Regions from separate parts of the Homo sapiens genome. Here region 2 is linked to region 1. The links come from fine-mapping of genetic effects on gene expression. A gene starts in region 1. The other region holds a variant in brackets. All regions are shown on one strand. Distances are from middle to middle.

Region 1 (9,908 bases):
TTTATGCATTCATCTTGTATTCATGGTAATTTATTTTAACCTTTGGGCTCATTTATTTTGTCATTCAAATTGATCCAGTTTGGGCCATGGGGAGATCTCTCTGTTTGTTCCTATTTCCCTCTGATATACTCCCTCAGATTTACAGGCTCATCTTCTCTTCATTTAATTTCCTGCCCCAGTCCTACAATCAGCCATTTCTCCAAGGACTTCTGATTTCTTTTTTTTTTTTGAGAATGGTATTAGAAACCACAGTCTGGGTGCTAGGGGTACTCATTACTATTGTTATTGTTATTTGACAGAGCAAGGAAATATATGTATGTATAATAACTCATAAATATACATATTTATAAATATTTCTTTTATATACATATTTATAAATAATCTGTATTTATATTTAACTAAATATGAATTCATACTGATGTCTAATTCATTACCTCATTGATCATTCTAGCACCTTTCTCTTGCTTATCTGTAACTTCTAACTCCAACAGTGAGAAACCTGGATTCCCCCAGCCCCCATTCATTTGCTTAGGAGTTCAATTACAGTGTACCTGTAGAGCAGTATCAGAATTATTAACCTATAACCTTGGGGAAAACAATTTTATCAAGTAGAGTGCAGAGCTTGTGTACATTTTCTTTTGCCTTTAAGCTTACAGGCTCCACTCATTTACAAAGTTACTCAGATCAGAAACTTTTCCCCCAACTCAACTCAGAGAGATTGTTTCACACATTTGTAACAGTTACATCATTTTTGTCACATTGTGCATTCCTTCCTGGAATCCTCTGACTTCCTAAATGATTTTTCTTTTAATTCTCATACATTGTTTCATTCTTTGTGCAGTAAAGTTCTATGGGGTTTGACAAGTGCATAGTGTCATGTATTTACTGGTATAGTATCATACAGAATAGATTCATCACCCTAAAAAATCTTTTATACTTTACCTATTCAATCCCTTTTTTCCTCTTAATCCACTGGCAGTCATTGATATTTTCACCAACCCTATACTTTGGTCTTTTACAAAATTGGAATCAGAGTACACATGTTCCCAGACTTACAATGATTTGACTTACAAGTTTTTTAAACTTTAAGATGTGTGAAAGCAATAAGCATTCAGTAGAAGCCATACTTTAGTACCCATACAAGCATTCTGTTTTTTACTTTCAGTAGAGTAGTCAATAAATTACATGAAATACTCAATTACATGAGATACTCAAAGCCAATTATAAAATTGGCTTTGTGTTAGATGCTTTTGCCCAACTATAGGCTAATGTAAACATCCTGAGCACATTTAAGGTAGGCTAGGCTAAGCTATGATGTTTGGAAGGTTAAGTGTTTTAAATGCATTTTCAGTTCACAGTATTTTCAACTTGCAATTGTTATAACAGGATATAACCCCATCATAAGTTGAGGAGCATCTGTATGTAGCCTTTTCAGACTGGCTTCATTAACTTAGCAATATTCATTTAAAAATGTATCCATGTCCTTTCATAGCTTGATAGATCATTTCTTTTCATCATTGAGTAGCATCCCACTGTTTGGATGTACCATAGATTACATATCCATTCACTTATTGATGGGCATCTTTATTGCTTCTAGTCTCAGGCAATTATGAATAAATATGATTTTAACATTTGTGTGCAGGTTTCTGTGTGGGCATAACTGTTCAAATTGGTTGAGTAAATATCTAAAGGCATGATTACTGAATGACATAGCAAGAGTATAATCACCTCTCTAAGAAACTACCAACTGTCTTCCAAAACAGCATTACCATTTTGCATTCCTGCCAGCAATAAATGAGATTTCCTATTGCTCTATATCTTTGACAAAAATTGCTACTGTGAGGGTTTTTTATTTTTTTGATTTTGACCATTTAAAATGTATAGTTGCGTAATATTGTTGTTTTAATTTGCAATTCCCTAGTGAGATATGATGTTAAGCATATTTTCATATGCTCATTTACTATCTGTATATCTTTTTCTATTCAGATTTTTTGGCCAATTTTTCTGGCCTTTATTTATTTATTTATTTTTTTATTTTACTTTAAGTTCTGGGATACATGAAAGAAAGTGCAGCATGCAGGTTTGTTACATAGGTATACATGTGCCATGGTGGTTTGCTGCACCCATCAACCCGTCATCTAGGGTGCAGTCAGCCTTATAAGGACAGAAACACCAGGGTTAGTGTGTATCCAAGGAAAATGTGCCACCTTGGCCACAGGTGTGCTCCAACATCAATGCTACTCAGTTTCTCTTCCTATCTGTTTCTGTGTCTTCCTTCTTCTCTTCCCACCACTGTTACCCATATATGCTACCTTTCTCACACTTTCTGCAAACTCATAACTTCCTCTTACACAGGGCACTCTGTTACTTGAACACTACCTCATGGTATCTATTTACATCCTATTATCTTCAACTACTACACCACCTGCCACATTATCAGCATTTTGTTTGCTCAGTCCCATGAGAAGAACCTGACTAGCCATCCTTAAAAAAACACTCTGTTCCCAATCCAATCACCTAGTTCAACCATGTGCCCAAGGCTGCCTGGCCAGCCAGGGCAATGATAATTCAAGCCAATTCCACCCACAGCAAGTTATTTCTCAGATCTTAGTTTTTACCAGTTGAAATGCCCCCTGAAGTTTTCTTTGATGCTCATCCCTATGTCTGTTCAGTTTTTTTTTTTCTGCCCTGAGGTTCCCCCAAGAGCTCTATCAGAGAAAGACTTGGCCCATGCTGCCAACACACTGGGAAGCTGGGGTTAGCCCTCTCCAGAACCCACGGGCAGAAAAGGACAGTGCCAGAAAGTGTCAGGGCTAATCCAAAGAGAATTCCAACGGAGAGGAGTGTGTGTGTAGATGAGGATAGAGGATAGTCACAGAATTCTCAGTACAAATTGGAGATTATTATGGCCCAAGTGTTCACATTTTCATACAGGAGATAATAAATGACCAAGTCTGAGCTTATTCATGGCAGTATCACGTAAGGAGAGCAAAACCCCTCCCACCTGTTAGCGACAGGGATGTGCAAAGAGTGAGTCTAGTGCTCCATCATCAATAGGCTCCGCTGTCCACACTGCGTCTCCTTATGCCTGCTTGTCTTTTCACTATGAGCTGGCTTTCTCACTCTCTACCAATGCATAGAAGAGGAGAGCAAAATTCAGGTTCAGGGAAGAGAAAAAGAGCGTAGTGGTTGAAAAAGAACCCAAAATCCAGGAGAGACGTAGAACTAAACTCCCTCAGGGAGGTTGCAGTAGTTACTATGATCACAACAGATGAGCTCTACCCTCTTCGTGAACCCCAGGAAGTTGATGTCCTCACAGCTGGTCATACACGACAGTTTTGAATAATGATACATGCTCTGCCCTGAGGAGGTAAAAGAGAGGAAATATGATCATAATGACCTCATTTCCTTTTACTGCGTTCCTAGGAGTAATCTGTTTTTGTGTCCTCACTAACCTTTCTCTAGGCCCAAATGAGTTCCAAAGCTGAGTCTGTTAATTGCTGACCCAGAGAGTAGATTTTATTCCCTGCCAGGTAAGGGACATCAGCCTCTTTTTCACTCAATATGGTCTTAGGGAAAAGTCTGTCTTTGCCATCCCCTCAAGACCACCCCATACTCACCCATCCCATTCACCTACTCACGCTGAGGGCAAAAGAACACTACTGTTTCTCAGGGATGGTGGTGGTGATTTTCCAGTCACTCTATACTCCACATTACCTTTCCTTGTAAGGATGTAAAAGTTCTCAACTGCACAGGACTGTTTATGCTTCAGGGAGCAGGATGTCATGACACCATAGCATAACCCAAGATGATATTTTTTACATTCATAACACATTATTTCAGTCGCTGCCAGATACAAAAAGAGGTGCTTAGAGGATGCAGTCTTGAGAATATTCTCTGGGGCTGGGGGCTTCACTACAGGACCTTATTCTTGCCTAGTGGTTCCTAACATTTTTTGGACCATGGACTCTTGGTAATCTTGAGAAAGATAGGGATAATCATGCTGCGGTCCTCCCCATGTACACATTAATAAATTTGTACACATTTTCTCCAATTAAAAAAATCTTGTGAAAGATAACCTGTACAAACATAAATCAAACACTGTATATGATTTCAGGAGGTCAGGGTTCCCATGAAATTTATCCATGGACCTCCAGTAATGAACCCCTTATCTAGCCTGATGATTTTGCCGAGTAATGGGTAAAAGAAAGTAAAGTGGATCTTAGCCTCCTTACTCTAAGAAATGGACAAAACAGGTCTGGCAGGAGGCGAAACCCCTAGGATTCTATAATAAGAATGGATTACAGGCCTCTCTGAAGATGAAGGAAAGGTTTGCTCCTAAACATGTCACAAATTGCCTGTTTACCAAGGACTTCAGAGAAGCCATGATTGTACCTTTTATAGGGTCATGAAGTTCACCTGTGAAAAGAAGAAAAACCTTCCATGTTACAGTCTCACATACATCTGCCACTGCCCCAAGAGCCAATTTTGAAAACTTTCTCTTCCCCCAGCATCTGTCCGTCTCTTAACCAACCACCAGCTTCCCCTCTGTCTCCAGGACTTACCCCAATATGGGCAGAGCAGAAAGACTGTGCCCAGGAGAAAGAGAACAAGCATCCTGGAGCTTCTGTCAGGTGCAGCTTCCTGTGGAAGGAGCAAGTTGTTCTCTTGTGATCTGTCCTTGGGCTAGTCATCTAAATTATATAATCATAAAATTTCAGGGACAGGCAGTATGGCAATGTTCCAAGCCAAACCACCATATCTGATTGCTGCACAGCATTCTAAAGAGGGTACTCACTTTGATTTTGTGCAAATCCTCTAATGAAAATGAAATGGTAATGTTCCTGATTCACCAGACCTGCTCCTACTTCAATATTGCAGAGTTTTAAAAAGTATTTTCAACTTTCATTTTAGATTCAGGGGGTACATGTGCAGGGTTGTTACAGGGGTATATGGCTTGATGCTGAGGTTTGGGGTACGAATGATCCCGTCACCCAGGTAGTGAACATAGCACCCAACAGTTATTCAGTCCTGCCCAGTCTCTCCTCACAATGTTGCAGGTTTTAATACATCTGGGAGGTGTTCTTTACATCTTCTTGTGTTTCATCCTCATTGAGCAATCTAACAGCAAGTCTTATCCATTCTACCTACTAACTTCTCACATGGGTTTATTATTCTCTGTCGCCACTGCCATTACCATAATCCAGTCTATTATGTCTTGCCTGGACCAAGCAATGGCCTTATTTCTGGCCTCCATGCTTCTCCTCTGCCCCTTCATAATCATTTCTTCATAAAGCAGTCAGAGAACAAGTCATAGATGCCACACCCCTGCTGAAAACACTCTGACGACTTTTTATTACCTTTGAAAGAAAATCCAGAGTTTTTATCATAGCCGGCAATGGCTTTGTCATTATGAGCAATGGCCTCCCCTCCAATCTCCTTTCTCTCCACATTTCCCTGGCTCACTCAGGTCTTTGCTCAAATGTCACTCCCTCAGACAGAGCAGCATTTTCTGCTTAATCTCTAGAAAATGACAGCCTTCATTTCCTACCTTTTTCCCTGTGGTATGTTTCATTGCAATTCTAATAAGCTGATCTTACATTGCTATTGGCTCACTTTTTTACTCCTCCACTAGAACAAAGCAAGGGGTTTCTTTGGTTTATCATGGCACACTTGGCATCTAGAGGCTGGGAACAAAGGAAATGCCCAACAAATATTTGTGGGAGGAATTAATAATGTTCTTCCCATATCCTGCCTTGCATCCCTCCAGTCCATTCTCCACAGAGCATCCAGCTTTATCAGACTGGTTTTTTGAACTATAATAAAGACAAGAAATGAGACTTTCTACATTCCAGCAAGGGTCCCAAGATAGTAGGTAGCAAGTGTTTCACATTTCAAAGTGAAATGCTATGCTACTTAGGCAGATTTACAAAGAAAATCAATGAAACCGTGTTTAATATCCTGGACTTGCTGCCCACCTGGAGGGTATAAATGAACAGTGAAGTGCCAGAAAATAAAATGGAAGGAGTTTCTATAGTCTAGTGTGAGGGTTACTTTTCTATATATGGCTCAAAAAACAGAACCATAAAAAAGATATGTTTATCTATATTTTTAAAAAATCTTCTACATAGATGGAAAACCAATCATTAATCCATAAGCAAAGACCAAATAACAAATAAACCATTAAAAATATTTGCAACTCATATCTCAGACTAAGGGCGAATCTCCCTATTATACAAAGATATTCCAGAAATTGATTTTTAAAAGATTAACAATTCAAAGGGGAGAGACGCAGTCAATAATAATGTCATAGTTCACAGAAAAAAGAAACAGAAATGCTTCTTAAACACATGAAATATGGTGAACCTTGCTCCTAATTTTAGGATATTAGTTTTACTTAACAGATTTGCAATAATCAGAATTTAGTAACACAACTGTGTTGGCAAGATGGAGTAAAATGAGCACTGTCATACATTGCTGATGGGGCTGTAACTTAATATATCAGTAAGGAATAAAATTAGACAATAGCTCGTCAATTTTATATCTTTCCTGCTTTCTCTTGTGGGCATTTAGTGCTATAAATTTCCCTCTACACACTGCTTTAAATGTGTCCCAGAGATTCTGGTATGTTGTGTCTTTGTTCTCATTCATTTCAAAGAACATCTTTATTTCTGCCTTCATTTCGTTATGTACCCAGTAGTCATTCAGGAGCAGCTTGTTCAGTTTCCTTGTAGTTGAGTGGTTTTGAGTGAGTTTCTTAATCCTGAGTTCTAGTTTGATTGCACTGTGGTCTGAGAGACAGTTTGATATAACTTCTGTTCTTTTACATTTGCTGAGGAGTGCTTTACTTCCAACTATGTGGTCAATTTTGGAATAAGCGTGATGTGGTGCTGAGAAGAATGTATATTCTGTTGATTTGGGGTGGAGAGTTCTGTAGATGTCTATTAGGTGTGCTTGGTGCAGAGCTGAGTTCAAGTCCTGGATATCCTTGTTAACCTTCTGTCTCATTGATCTGTCTAATGTTGACAGTGGGGTGTTAAAGTCTCCCATTATTATTGTGTGGGAGTCTAAGTCTCTTTGTAGGTCTCTAAGGACTTGCTTTATGAATCTGGGTGCTCCTGTATTGGGTGCTTAAATATTTAGGATAGTTATCTCTTCTTGTTGAATTGATCCCTTTACCATTATGTAATGGCCTTCTTTGTCTCTTGATCTTTGTTGGTTTAAAGTCTGTTTTATCAGAGACTAGAATTGCAACCCCTGCCTTTTTTTGTTTTCCTTTTGCTTGGTAGATCTTTCTCCATCCTTTTATTTTGAGCCTACATGTGTCTCTGCTCGTGAGATGGGTCTCCTGAATACAGCACACAGATGGGTCTTGACTCTTTATCCAATTTGCCAGTCTGTGTCTTTTAATTGGAGCATTTAGCCCATTTACATTTAAGGTTAATATTGTATGTGTACATCACAATTGAAAGAACTAGGGAAGCAAGAGCAAACACATTCAAAAGCTAGCAGAAGGCAAGAAATAACTAAGATCAGAGCAGAACTGAAGGAGATAGAGACATAAAAAACCCTTTAAAAAATCAATGAATCCAGGAGCTGGTTTTTTGAAAAGATCAACAAAATTCATAGACCACTAGCAAGACTAATAAAGAAGAAAAGAGGGAAGAATCAAATAGACGCAATAAAAAATGATAAAGGGGATATCACCACCAATCCCACAGAAATACAAACTACCATCAGAGAATACTATAAACACCTCTACACAAATAAACTAGAAAATCTAGAAGAAATGGATAAATTCTTGGACACATACACCCTCCCAAGACCAAATCAGGAAGAAGTTGAATCCCTGAATAGACCAATAACAGGCTCTGAAATTGAGGCAATAATTAATAGCCTACCAACCAAAAAAAGTCCGGAACCAGACGGATTCACAGCTGAATTCTACCAGAGGTACAAAGAGGAGCTAGTGCCATTCCTTCTGAAACTATTCCAATCAATAGAAAAAGAGGGAATACTCCCTAACTCATTTTATGAGGCCAGCATCATCCTGATACCAAAGCCTGGCAGAGACACAACAACAAAAAAGAGAATTTTAGACCACTGTCCCTGAGGAACATCAATGCAAAAATCCTCAATAAAATACTGGCAAACCGAATCCAGCAGCACATCAAAAAGCTTATCCACCACTATCAAGTTGGCTTCATCCCTGGGATGCAAGGCTGGTTCAACATATGCAAATCAATAAATGTAATCCAGCATATAAACAGCACCAAAGACAAAAACCACATGATTATCTCAATAGATGCAAAAAAGGCCTTTGACAAAATTCAACAGCCCTTCATGCTAAAAACTCTCAATCAACTAGGTATTGATGGGATGTACCTCAAAATAATAAGAGCTATTTATGACAAACTCACAGCCAATATCATACTGAATGGGCAAAAACTGGAAGCATTTCCTTTGAAAACTGGCACAAGACAAGGATGCCCTCTCTCACCACTCCTATTCAACATAGTGTTGGAAGTTCTGGCCAGGGCAATCAGGCAGGAAAAAGAAATAAAGGGTATTCAATTAGGAAAAGAGGAAGTCAAATTGTCCCTGTTTGCAGATGACATGATTGTATATTTAGAAAACCCAGTCATCTCAGCCCAAAATCTCTTTAAACTGATAAGCAACTTCAGCAAAGTCTCAGGATACAAAATCAACGTGCAAAAATCACAAGCATTCCTATACACCAAAAACAGACAGAGAGCCAAATCATGAGTGAACTCCCATTCACAATTGCTTCAAAGAGAATAAAATACCTAGGAATCCAACTGACAAGGGATGTGAAGGACCCCTTCAAGGAGAACTACAAACCACTGCTCAACAAAATAAAAGAGGACACAAACAAATGGAAGAACATTCCATGCTCATGGGTAGGAAGAATCAATATCGTGAAAATGGCCATACTGCCCAAGGTAATTTATAGATTCAATGCCATCCCTATCAAGCTACCAATGACTTTCTTCACAGAATTGGAAAAAACTACTTTAAAGTTCATATGGAACCAAAAAAGAGCCCTCATTGCCAAGACAATCCTAAGCCAAAAGAACAAAGCTGGAGGCATCACACTACCTGACTTCAAACTATATTACAAGGCTACAGTAACCAAAACAGCATGGTGCTGGTACCAAAACAGAGATATAAACCAATGGAACAAAACAGAGCCCTCAGAAATAATATCACACATCTACAACCATCTAATCTTTGACAAACCTGACAAAAACAAGAAATGGAGAAAGGATTCCCTATTTAATAAATGGTGCTGGGAAAACTGGCTAGCCATATGTAGAAAGCTGAAACTGGATCCCTTCCTTACACCTTATACAAAAATTAATTCAAGATGGATTGAAGACTTAAATGTTAGACCTAAAACTATAAAAGCCCTAGAAGAAAACCGAGGCAATACCATTCAGGACATAGGCATGGGCAAGGACTTCATGACTAAAACACCAAAAGCAATGAAAACAAAAGCCAAAATTGACAAATGGGATCTAATTAAACTAAAGAGCTTCTGCACAGCAAAAGAAACTATCATCAGAGTGAACAGGCAACCTACAGAATGGGAGAAAATTTTTGCAATCTACTCATCTGACAAAGAATCTACAAAGAACTCAAACAAATTTACAAGAAAAAAACAAACAACCCCATCAAAAAGTGGGTGAAGGATATGAACAGACACTTCTCAAAAGAAGACATTTATGCAGCCAACAGACACATGAAAAAATGCTCATCATCACTGGCCATCAGAGAAATGCAAATCAAAAACACAATGAGATACCATCTCACCCCAGTTAGAATGGCAATCATTAAAAAGTCAGGAAACAACAGGTGCTGGAGAGGATGTGGAGAAATAGGAACAC
Region 2 (10,319 bases), 370 kb before region 1:
ACAGCAAGTGAAAGGACAATGCATGTGGCTCAGTGCGCAGCCAGGGTACGAGGAGGCGGGAAAGTCAGGAGGATGTGCTATGTGCTGCTCCTGTTGTATTACTCAAACTTGCCCCTGCATTTTCTCTGACTGCCACTGCCTGCTTTGCTCAGGCTTCAGGGGTAAATACGGTAATTACACATAGGCTATGGCAGGAGCTTCCTAACCTGCTCTCCTGCCTTCTCTGGCCATCCCTCGGCCCACTTGCACACTCACACGTCTCTTAAGCCTTCCCAGGACAGGCCCCTGTCATTATTGCACTAAGGTAGGGGCCGGGCTTGCATGGGCTCTCCCAGGAAGGAGAGGCCCAGGGCTGCTAAGAATCGGGGACCGAGACTTTCAGTGCAGGAGGCAGGTCTTGGGTTCAAGACACAGGAGCCTGTATGAGAGAGAGAAAAGGAGCTTGTGAGTGTGTGTGTGTGTGTGTGTGTGTATGTGTGTGCACACGCGGGCACATGCATTCGTCATGGTTCACCCTTAATCCCCCCGGCCTGAAATAGCCTGAGCACCAGCCTGGCCTGGGGAGGGGTGTCTCCCCTCTGGAACATGATCCTCTGGATCAACATTCCAGCCGCCTGCCAGCTTTGTTGCAAACTGCTGGCTCATGGTTTTCCCTGTGTGCTAATCATCCAGCCTTGTGTTGCAAAGCGGGAGACATTTTTGTTTTCAACTTGGTATCCCCACTCCCAGATGCTATGCCGTGTCCTCCATCCAGATCGATGGGTTGAGCGTTTTCCTGCTCGGCCTTCGATTTCTCTGTGTGAGTCTTCTCTGCTGGGCAAAGTGGAGATGGGAAGTAAGGGAGACTGTTCTACCAAGCAGGGGACTAAAGCAGACTTTCAAAGACCTGGGCCACAGCTAGATTTTCCCCCTCCCTAGGAACCCATCCTGTGCTGCAGGCACCCAATGACACCCAGGCTTCCTACTCCTCAGAGCCCAGGCTTCTTGTGGGGGCAGGATCCTCTGTAAGGAGACTGGTTCTAGACCCTACTCTGGGTTCTCCTGTCCTTCCTAGAGGGCGCAAATGGAACCATTCCACTAGAGAGACACCTCACTCAAGTATTAGTTTGACCTGAAATTCATCCTTTTTTCTCTGTGGAGATTTAAGCCTCAGCTCTATTCCAGGCAAATTGGATTGAATCATGGTTCTCATTCAATTGCCAAGCGTTTGGGGGGCACTCACTGTATGTTCTGTGCTAGGTCCTGTGAGAACAGACACAAGCCATTGTCCAAGAGGAGCTCCCAGTCTCAGGGAGAGAGAGCCATGAGTCACAATGAGGATCTAGATAAATCATGTCAGCCGTGAAATGCTCAGGGTCAAGAGTACAGAGGAAAGGAGCAGCCAAAGAGATGGGGAGAGGAGCTGCAGGCAGGGATTCTGGATTGGGTGATCCACATGTGTGGCTTGAGGTTGCCCCAGTCTCAACTCAGCATCCTTCATCCTTCCTCAGAGGGGGACCAAGTCCCAGACCCAGCCCTCACACCTTCATGGCCAGTTTGTTCCTGCTCCACAATAGGATAAACAAACCTCAGTACAGAGTGGAGAGGACAACAGGAGGATTTTGCCCATTGTGATTGGAGAAGTTACAGATTCATTGGCCTTGGGAGGGCTTCCTCTGGGAGGTGGCATTTCAGGCAGGCTTGGTGAGAGTTGGTAGCCTATTTGGCAACCTTTATAAAGGTGAGTGTTTCCAATGTAGCAAGAAGTCTGAAAGAAGGCGAGAAACAGAGAGAGCCAATCAGAATCCCTAGAGAGGAGATGGGGTGAAGGGGGCTCATTCATTCACGCATCCTGCATCCATTCAGGCACCTCTGGAGCCTACTGAGTTCTGGGGATATAAAAAATGGATGCGACACAGTCCCAGGTCTCCAAGTGTAATGATGGAGTACCTTGAAGCCAAATGTGTGGGAGTTCTGTTTTGGGGCTAATAGTGGTGGCCGACTGCTAAAGACTTTAAAGGTAGTGGAGAATGTAGGCAACAGGGTCAGGGCTGGAGACACGCTGGAGACAAATCAATTGAGCAGCCACATCTTGTATTGGTCCAAGAAGAGCTGGCAGAAGGAGGGGAGACGGTGAACATTTATTGAGCTCCCCTCTGTCTCAAACATGGTGTGTACTAGGTGCTTTCCACAGATTATCTAATTTACTCTTCATGACAGGCTGCAAGGTACACATGATTTTCTCCATTTTACATCCAAGAAAAGAGAAGCTGAGAGAAGTGAAGACCCTGGCTCAAAGTCACACACCTAGCAAGTGCTGGAGTCCGGGATGGGCTACTCCAGAGCCCATGTTCTTCTTGCTACATGGGGATATGTTTTTGTGACACATGGGGAGAAGAATCAGGGGTCCTGGGACCTGGGTGGAGAGTGATGACCCTACCTAGCTATTGGTCAGTGGGGTAGGGACTACAGAGGAAGAAGCCAATTGCTACGAAGCAAGAATTTGGATTTGCTAGTAGACTGGAAGTAGGGAAATGAGAGGTACAAAGTTGAGGACATTCTGAGATGCTAGGCCCAGCTGCCAGATGCGACTCTGCAGCTCTGCGCCTCCCCAGCAGAATAGGAAGGGGGCTAATCAATGCATCCCCACCTGAGAAGGGTGGCACTTGCCTATTGACCTCTAAGGAATTTTGGATTTTCCAGATTGGCAGGGGGCGGAAGGGGTAGGGGGCCATCACCTCAGCCAGGACCCTAGAGGTTCTGCCCAGTGGCTAAGCATCCTGAGGACAGGACCAGGGAGAAGACTGGATGGGGCTGGGGTAGGGGGCAATCTACCCTGGAAAGATCACTACTTAGATGGACAGGGGGCATCCCTAGACTGAAGTGGAATAAAATGAGCCACACTGCCTGTCACAGGCATTAAAGCTGTCTCTTCTGCCGGTTCCTCACCCCCAGCCCTGCAGCCGTGGAGCCCAGAGACCAGAGGGTGGCCTTTGCCGCCAGGCTAGTGAAACCTGAGCGCTTCTCCCGCCTGAGAAGGAATGTTCCTTAAGAGCAGCAGCTGCTGCTTGTCCCCACAGGCCAGAACTGCCTTTCCCTTGAGACCAAGGCCCCCAACAGGAGTGGAACAAGAACAGGATTAGGTGGCTTGTTTACATGTGCTTGGCTTTCCCGAGTTTGGGAATCTGGCTTTTCTTGGTCTAAGACAGGGCCCTGGCTCTGCCAGAACGGAGGGATGCTGCCGGGAAGGGGTGTCTGGGGACAGGGACAACCTCTCCACCCTCCTAAGGCACATTTGCGCGGGCACACACACAAACACACACATCACACACACACAAACACACACACACCACCACACACAGGAATACACCCACAGCCTTAGGCCAAAGTCAGACCACACATGTATCTCGCATGTACCATGCACTTAACATTGCGCTAAGCAGTTTCGGGGAATTCAGAGAAAGACCCCTCTTTCCCTCAAAAAGCCTGCCACCAAGCTAGGGAAAGACGACGCCTGCATTAGAGAGAACCATTCTGTTGTGTCCAGTATGTAAGGCAGATGGGAGGCTTTGAAGAGTCCAGAGGACGGGCCGCGGCTGTGCCCTGGAGAGGTCAGGACAAGCTTTCCAGCAGAAAGGAGACATTCAGAACCGACCCCCACCCGCCCCGAGCCCAGGCAGGGGAGCCGCCAGCACGCGCCTTCTGGGAGGCTTTGGTGAGTGTGGTCTGAGCCGGTGGATCAGCAGAGACCTCTAGTGGCCGGGGGGAGGATGGCAGGTGGCTGGGGCTGGCTCCGCACTGCACCCCACTCCGGCCACCGACTCACCGTCACCCACCCTCCCACACAATCCTTAGGAAATGGCATGGGCTCTTTTACAGTCCTCAGCTGGAAGGATCTTTGCCAGGCCATCCCGTTCATTCCCCTGTTTCACAGGCATCCAAGTAAGATAAAAATTCCACCTATTTCAAAACAGCTTAAACAGAAACTTTTCTGTCATTTATCTCCTTCACTCCTTCATGTCTTTGTCCCATTCTGGTTTCTTCCAGGAATTCCTTCCTTGAGTGGAAATGAAGTCTTCCTTGAGTTTCCCAGGGCAGTTCAAGCCCTTTCCCTATTAAAAATGAAGCACGGTGGCTCACAGGGACAGACAGCTCTTCCTGGGCTGACGTGAGACCGCTGTGCATTCATGTGGGCCCCTGCACCCCCCACTTCCAAAAGTCATTCCACAGCTTCTCATCGTTTCTTAGTAAGGCCTTCCTTTGGAACAAGTCATCTTTCTGCTGTTCCAAATGCAATTTGGAGTAAAACTCCCCTGGGGACCACTGAGGTCTGTGAAGAATGAGTGGCAGTCGCAGTTCCAGGGTGTTGCAGCTGGCCCAGAGGATGGTGCTCGGGAGGCACCAGTTCTCTGCCATTCCAAACCCAAAGCCCTGCCTTGCTCTGCCCCTCCTGAGAGGCTCCTGCTTCTGAGTCTCAATCAACAGCACACAAGGAACAGGAGTGGGGCCGCTTCCAGGGGTGCCCATGGAGCCCGGCGTGTTGGTTTTCATCTGATTCCCAGGC[C/T]TCAGGCAGTTTCCAGAGGCTTGGGGACACCACGGCTGTCTTCCTAGTGGAACAAAACGAACAGAATTCTTGGGCTGGATAACCAGCTGTCATCCCCAGGTTCCTGGATAATTCCAGCAGGGATGTGAGGCTCTGGGTGCTGAAAAAAGTAACTAGAACCGTACCAAACACTCTTCTCACTTCCATCTGGGTGCTAAGGAGCCTAGAGGGGAGCAACTCTGTGTCTAGACACAGTGGCATCTACCTGGGTTTGGAGTCTGATAAGCCCTGAGGGGAAGCTGTCAAAAAGCTAATAATACTGTGTGCTTAGCCAACATGTGCTCCCCACGGGGTTTCCACCGCTGCTCTGGAAGTTCCTTCCTCAGAAAAGAGAGTCAGACCCTCCTTGTCTCCATTCCACGGCTCTAGAGACTAAGCCTGGACTGGAAATCGCAGCCAAGTGGAGTTGTGGGGCTAGTCAGAGACGATGCTTAGGATCCTGGGACTCGACCATTGCCCAGGAACATCTCAGACAGGGAGACATGTAGCCAGGTTTGCACAACTCTGCCTGCGTGCGCAACCCCAGCTGAACCCCTTCCATTGCTACGTAAAGAACTCAAGTGGCTTGAAGGCTTCTAGGACAGGTTTTTAAATCCCAACTGTACGACTCCCTAGTTGAGTGACCTTAGCCAAGGGAAGTGGGAAATAAATTATTGGATGGCTAAATGTGCCAGGCACTGTGCTTGCATTGGAGCCTGTCTGACCCCGAAGCACATATCCTCTCTCTGTGAGCACTCGTCCTACACTCAGAGCCAGAGGCCTTAGGCTGGAGGCACAGTTATTTGACTCTGGGAAGTCACTTCCATCCTCTCTGGACCTCAATCTCTCTTCAGGCAAATAGGACAGTCCTGCTGACCCCATGGGGTGATGGTGACATTAAAATGGAACAGCGTGGTGAAAGCTCTCTCATACTCAGCGTGTACGATCTTTGGGACCATCACAAGGAAGTTTTTAGAAATATAGATTGCTAGATGATGGGTGAGGGTCTTGACCCAGTGGCCCTGAGAATCTATGTCTAAAAAAAAAAAAAAAAAAAAAAAAAAAAAGCACACTCAAGGCAGGTTTGTGAAGCAGCTCATGTTTACAGATGTAAGGGATGAATATCATTTCCCCAGACCTCCGGGATGCCAAAATTTTGCTTCCTCTTCCCTGCCCCACCTAAAACGTTGCCAGTCCCAGCCCTGCCCTTGGACTCTATCTCTGAAGGTTTTTATTTTATTCCTTCACTGATAGAATCTGGCTGCCTCTCAGCACCTTCCAGCCAAAGACCCAGGGAAGGGAGAGAAGGGTAGGAAAGAGAAGGCTCTGATCCAATGCATAAATTGCCCTTAGTTACCCAAATTGGGTAAATTGGCATGGAGGGTATCCAAGCCACAAGGTGGAGAAGCAGCCAGGGTCTGAGTAAGCAGACGAAGCATCCAGGTGGTGGCTCACCCTCTGCCTTTGGCTAGGAAACAATGTGTGTTGGTTGAATCCCAAGGGACACATCTTGTATTTATTTTACTGACTTTGCTTGTATTTTTCTAACCTTGTTGGGTACTTTTTTGGGGGTGAAGAAAGTCTAGGACAACCTTTTATGTTTGAAATTCTCAAATATCCCTACCAGAAGAGGCACAGGCTAGCATGGATGATTCCAAACAAGGGATTGAGAAGTCACTTCCACTGGTTTTAAGGTGAATGGCATGGAGGTACCCACTCCCCCATTAAATTTACCTTCAAGCCTGGTGTGGTGGCTCACGCCTGTAATCCCATGACTCAGGAGGCTCAGGTGGGAGGATTACATGACCCCAGAAGTTTGAGACAAGCCTGGGCAACAGAGCAAGACTCTCTACCCTGTCTCAAAAAACAAACAAAAAAAAAAGTAAATTTACCTTCCGAGTTTGCTTCAGCTTCAAATATAATATCAGCACGGTTTACACACCATGAGAATGGTAGGCTGGGATGTTGGAACAAGGAGAACTCAAACTCAGAGCAGTCTCATCGCTGAAAACTCAGGCGTTGAGGGTCCCGGTGTCACATGCACTGTATACATAAGGAGATGAGGCCCACAGAAGGGTGGTGACGAGATTGCCTTTCCTCCAGTGCCCACGCTGCTTCTGGACTTCTGAGTTTTAGTTGTTTTTATCTGTTCACCTTGCCTGCAATGATGATTGGTTGACCTGCAGGATTCAAGGAGCATTTGCAGCCCAGAACCGGTGTAGGGGGCATTTGTGGGTGAAGGAGATCTGTGTTCTAGTCCTCTGGCTGCTAACGGGCTGTGTGGCCTTGGGAAGTCCCAGGCATCTCTAAACCTCAGTGCCTTATTTGTACTTCAGGGAGGGGAAATGTGTGGCTTCCAGGGGCTCTTCCAGTTTCTAGGCTTCTGCATGGCAGACTCCATTTTAGACTGCGACTGCAGGAACAGAAAGGCCAAGAGCTCTGCTCAAAGTATAAGCTTCACGGGCTAGGCGGCTCCCACGGGGCCCCAGGAAGGGGAAGCCAAGGCAAGAGCTGCCCCCTCTGTTCCCCAAGGTCACAGCAGCAGAGGTGAGCTCAGAATAGAAGCAAGGCCTCCATCGCCCCACCCACCCGGAGGAGCCACACCAGGAGGCCCGTGCGGCAGGTGGGTGGGAGGAGGGCGTGCTTGGCTCCTCTCCTCCTGGCGCTGCTTATTTATAGGAAATACTCCTCCAGCTCTTGGGCCAGAGACAACCCAGGAGAGTAAAAAAAGGCAGCTCTGGAGGAGACGCCAAGGGGGATTTAATCAGCTGAATCGAGTGAGATGTATAAATCAGTGCCGACTTCCACTTCCTGACAGGCTCTGCCAGGTTCTGTGTTGTCAGGGTCTGGGAGGAGATTCGCCATGGCTGTCCCCCGGGCTGTAACACTTTCCCTTCGTTGCTACAGGTAGGCAGTCACTGGCTCGAGGTTTCCTCCAAACACAGATTTCCGGGCTCAAAACCCTAGACTTGCCCTGGAGGCTGAAGACCCAAGCTTCTTCAAGTCCTAAAACAAAAACCGGGAAGCTGGGGCCTTCTTTTTTGCCCCATTTTGTCTATTTCCTTGACCATTTACCTGTCTCTAAATCCTTGCAGTTCACGCCTTACGATTCCAGCATTTGAGCATGGGAATGTCGCCGAAATGGCCATTGGACCTGTTAACTGGTTCAAGCCCCGTCTTCAGATGAGGAACCGTGGCTAGGAGGAGCTAAGAGACTCAGGCAGGCCTCCTGAGGCTCCCACACTTCACTCGCTGCCTTTTTTCTTCTCCGAACCTAGAGACCCTAACCTCTCCCACATCCTATTCCTTCCTCACAAATTCTCTCCAAGCACCCAGCCTCCCAGTGCAGGCTCCCCAGAAAGCAGGGAGGGCTCCACAGCAAGTCCAAGGACTTCTTTACCCAGCTGTTAACTAGGAATGGTGAGGAGAGCAGAGGGCCAGGAAAACATGTCTTACCTGCCTGGGCTAACGCAAAGAAAAGCGGCAAAGGTTCCGTGCTGGTCGGCAGTGTGGGGAGAGGAGAGTCTGTTTCCAGTGGAATCCTGTGGGCAGCCTGAGGAAGAGAACAGGATCGATGCCATGTGCCGAAGGTGGCTGAGGCTCATATGAGACACCCTTAGAAGACAGGTTATGGGAAGGCTAGGGCGGCTTTCATTTGCTTATTTAACATGTATTTTAGTATCCTGAGCTAGGTGCTAAGGATACAAAGGTGAGAGCTGGAGGCTGCTCTGTGTGTGCAGCCTAGTGTGACAGGCCTGTGATGGAGGTGTGTGGAGAGCAGCCGGGGGACGGGAAAGCATCAGGAGACAAGCGTCGCTGAAGGATGAGCAGGTGCCGACCAGGTGAAGCCATTTTCTCAGACCCGGCTGACAGTGGAATCACCTGGGGAGCTTTTAATAACCCGGAGCCCATTGAATATGATGGATCTGATCAAGAAAAAATCCAGAGCCCAGGACACACTCCTGAACAATTAAATGAGACTCTCTGAGATTGGAACCCAAGCATCATTACTGGAGATTTCAAAGTACAGCCAAGGAGGAGACCATGGGGGTTATCAGATAATTTGTGCCTTAGGTTTTCAGGGCAATGGAATGGTTAAATGGGTGACTCTTTTTGTTTTTGTTTTTTTTAATTGAGCCTTCTTATTCACCCTTTCTAGGAAACCAAGAGAGTTGCCTTCTGGACCTGGGTCTGGGGAGGAGCTAGAAGGAGGGAGGGGGGCAGGCAGGAAGGGGAAAGGACGGAAGAGGACTCTGGGGCTGTAGGGTCTAAGCTCTCAGTGTCATTGTCACAAACCACGCCTCCCTCACTGCCAGGACCTCCTGCAGAATTCCCCCAATTCCATGTCCGGAGTCTCCAATAACCCCCAGGGGATTGTGGTCCCAGCCTCAGCGCTCCAGCAGGGCAACATCGCCATGACAACCGTCAACTCACAAGTTGTGTCAGGTCGGTGCAAAGACTGGGAAGGGTGATTGTGGGAATTCCCTGGGAGGAGAAAGGGTGGCCCCGAGGCGGTTCCAGGGGTGGGGGTTGTCCTCCACCGAGGGAGGGGCTCCCAGCTCAGTTTCTTGACTAAAGTTTTCTGTAAGTTTATAGACGGTTAGCGCCAAGACCCAATTGTGATGGTTTAGAACAAATTTGGGTCAAAATCTCATGAGCCCCTGAGAGGACCAAGTAAGGCTGTTGTCCCTTCCCCGAAGCACCTCCCACCAGAGGCTCTGTCCTAGGCTCTAGACACCATCCCCCACCCACCCATAAAGCAGAAAGCCATAGCTCGCTACCCAAGGGCTCCAAGTAGAGGGTCTTTACACATGAGTGCCAAATGAACTGGGAACCCTGCTTGCCCTCGCTCCTACCCACTCCCATGGCAGGGGACCCCAAAACTGGTTGTCTCCTCAGGTGGAGCCTTATACCAACCGGTTACCATGGTAACCTCCCAGGGTCAGGTGGTCACCCAAGCAATCCCCCAGGGAGCCATCCAGATCCAGAACACACAGGTGAGTGTGTGTAGGTGTGTGCACATGTGCATGGTGTGGGCTAGGGCACCTGTAATCGCTTCTTATCTGCCAGGCACTTTACACGGGTGACTCATTGAATCCTCATCATCCTCTAAGAGGTATCATTACCCCTACTTTACAGATAAGAAGCTGGGTCTTGGAAAGGTTTTATCAACTCCTGGGATTTTGCTGCCTCCCTCCTGGGGTTACATCAAAGGATCCTGCACTTCCTATTCCTGTCTGCAGACTGAGCCGCTGTGTCCCTCAGTGGTAGAGAGTGCACACACAAAGGAAGAGTAGAAAGATCGGAAGTCAGAGTCTGGGATCTGACATTAACTCTGGGATCTCTGATAAGTCACCTAACCTCTCTGAGCCTCAGACTTCTTATTGATAAAAGGGGGATTAATAGCAACTGCACACAGCCTAGCCAACCTACAGGGCTGCTGTGAGAATGAACCACAGCGATGGATAGGAAAGTGCTTTGCAAACTGTAAAGTACCACAGAAATGCTGATAACTACTTGACAGCTTATGGCAAATTCATATCTTCTCCTGTTCTCTCTGCATGGCCCTGTTTCCTCTGTCTTTCTCTCTCTCTCTCTCTCTCTCTCTCTCTCTCTCTCTCTCTCTCTCTCCCCCCCTTCCCCATCTCTTCCTCCTTGTCCTTCTTCCCTTCTCCCATCACCCAAGCCTCACCTCCACTCTCTGAGGGGCTGGCATGGGCTGAGAGGGAAAGGTGACCTCCCCAGGGCCCTAGGAATG

Which allele goes with the higher level. Alleles are on the strand shown, and positions count from the first base shown. SD is a standard deviation of normalised expression in the study named.
As copies of T replace C in region 2, the expression in cerebellar hemisphere of the gene that starts at base 4,672 in region 1 goes up (moderate effect, 0.44 SD a copy in GTEx).

The links.
Region 2: its variant is fine-mapped to the expression of PATE2 in cerebellar hemisphere (GTEx, PIP 0.97).

What each region holds. Positions count from the first base shown.
Region 1 is chr11:125,774,157-125,784,064 of GRCh38, forward strand. PATE2 (prostate and testis expressed 2) reads right to left here and starts at 4,672. Exons shown (of 4, transcript NM_212555.3): 1 at 4,566-4,672; 2 at 4,396-4,419; 3 at 3,718-3,846; 4 at 1,957-3,362. The coding sequence starts at 4,617. The coding sequence ends at 3,226.
Region 2 is chr11:125,401,319-125,411,637 of GRCh38, forward strand. PKNOX2 (PBX/knotted 1 homeobox 2) reads left to right here. Exons shown (of 13, transcript NM_001382323.2): 8 at 8,878-9,007; 9 at 9,461-9,558. Among named protein-coding and RNA genes, the nearest start is that of FEZ1, 90 kb to the right of the region's middle. RefSeq lists an enhancer at 7,436-8,635. The variant C/T (reference allele first, on the strand shown) is at 4,544.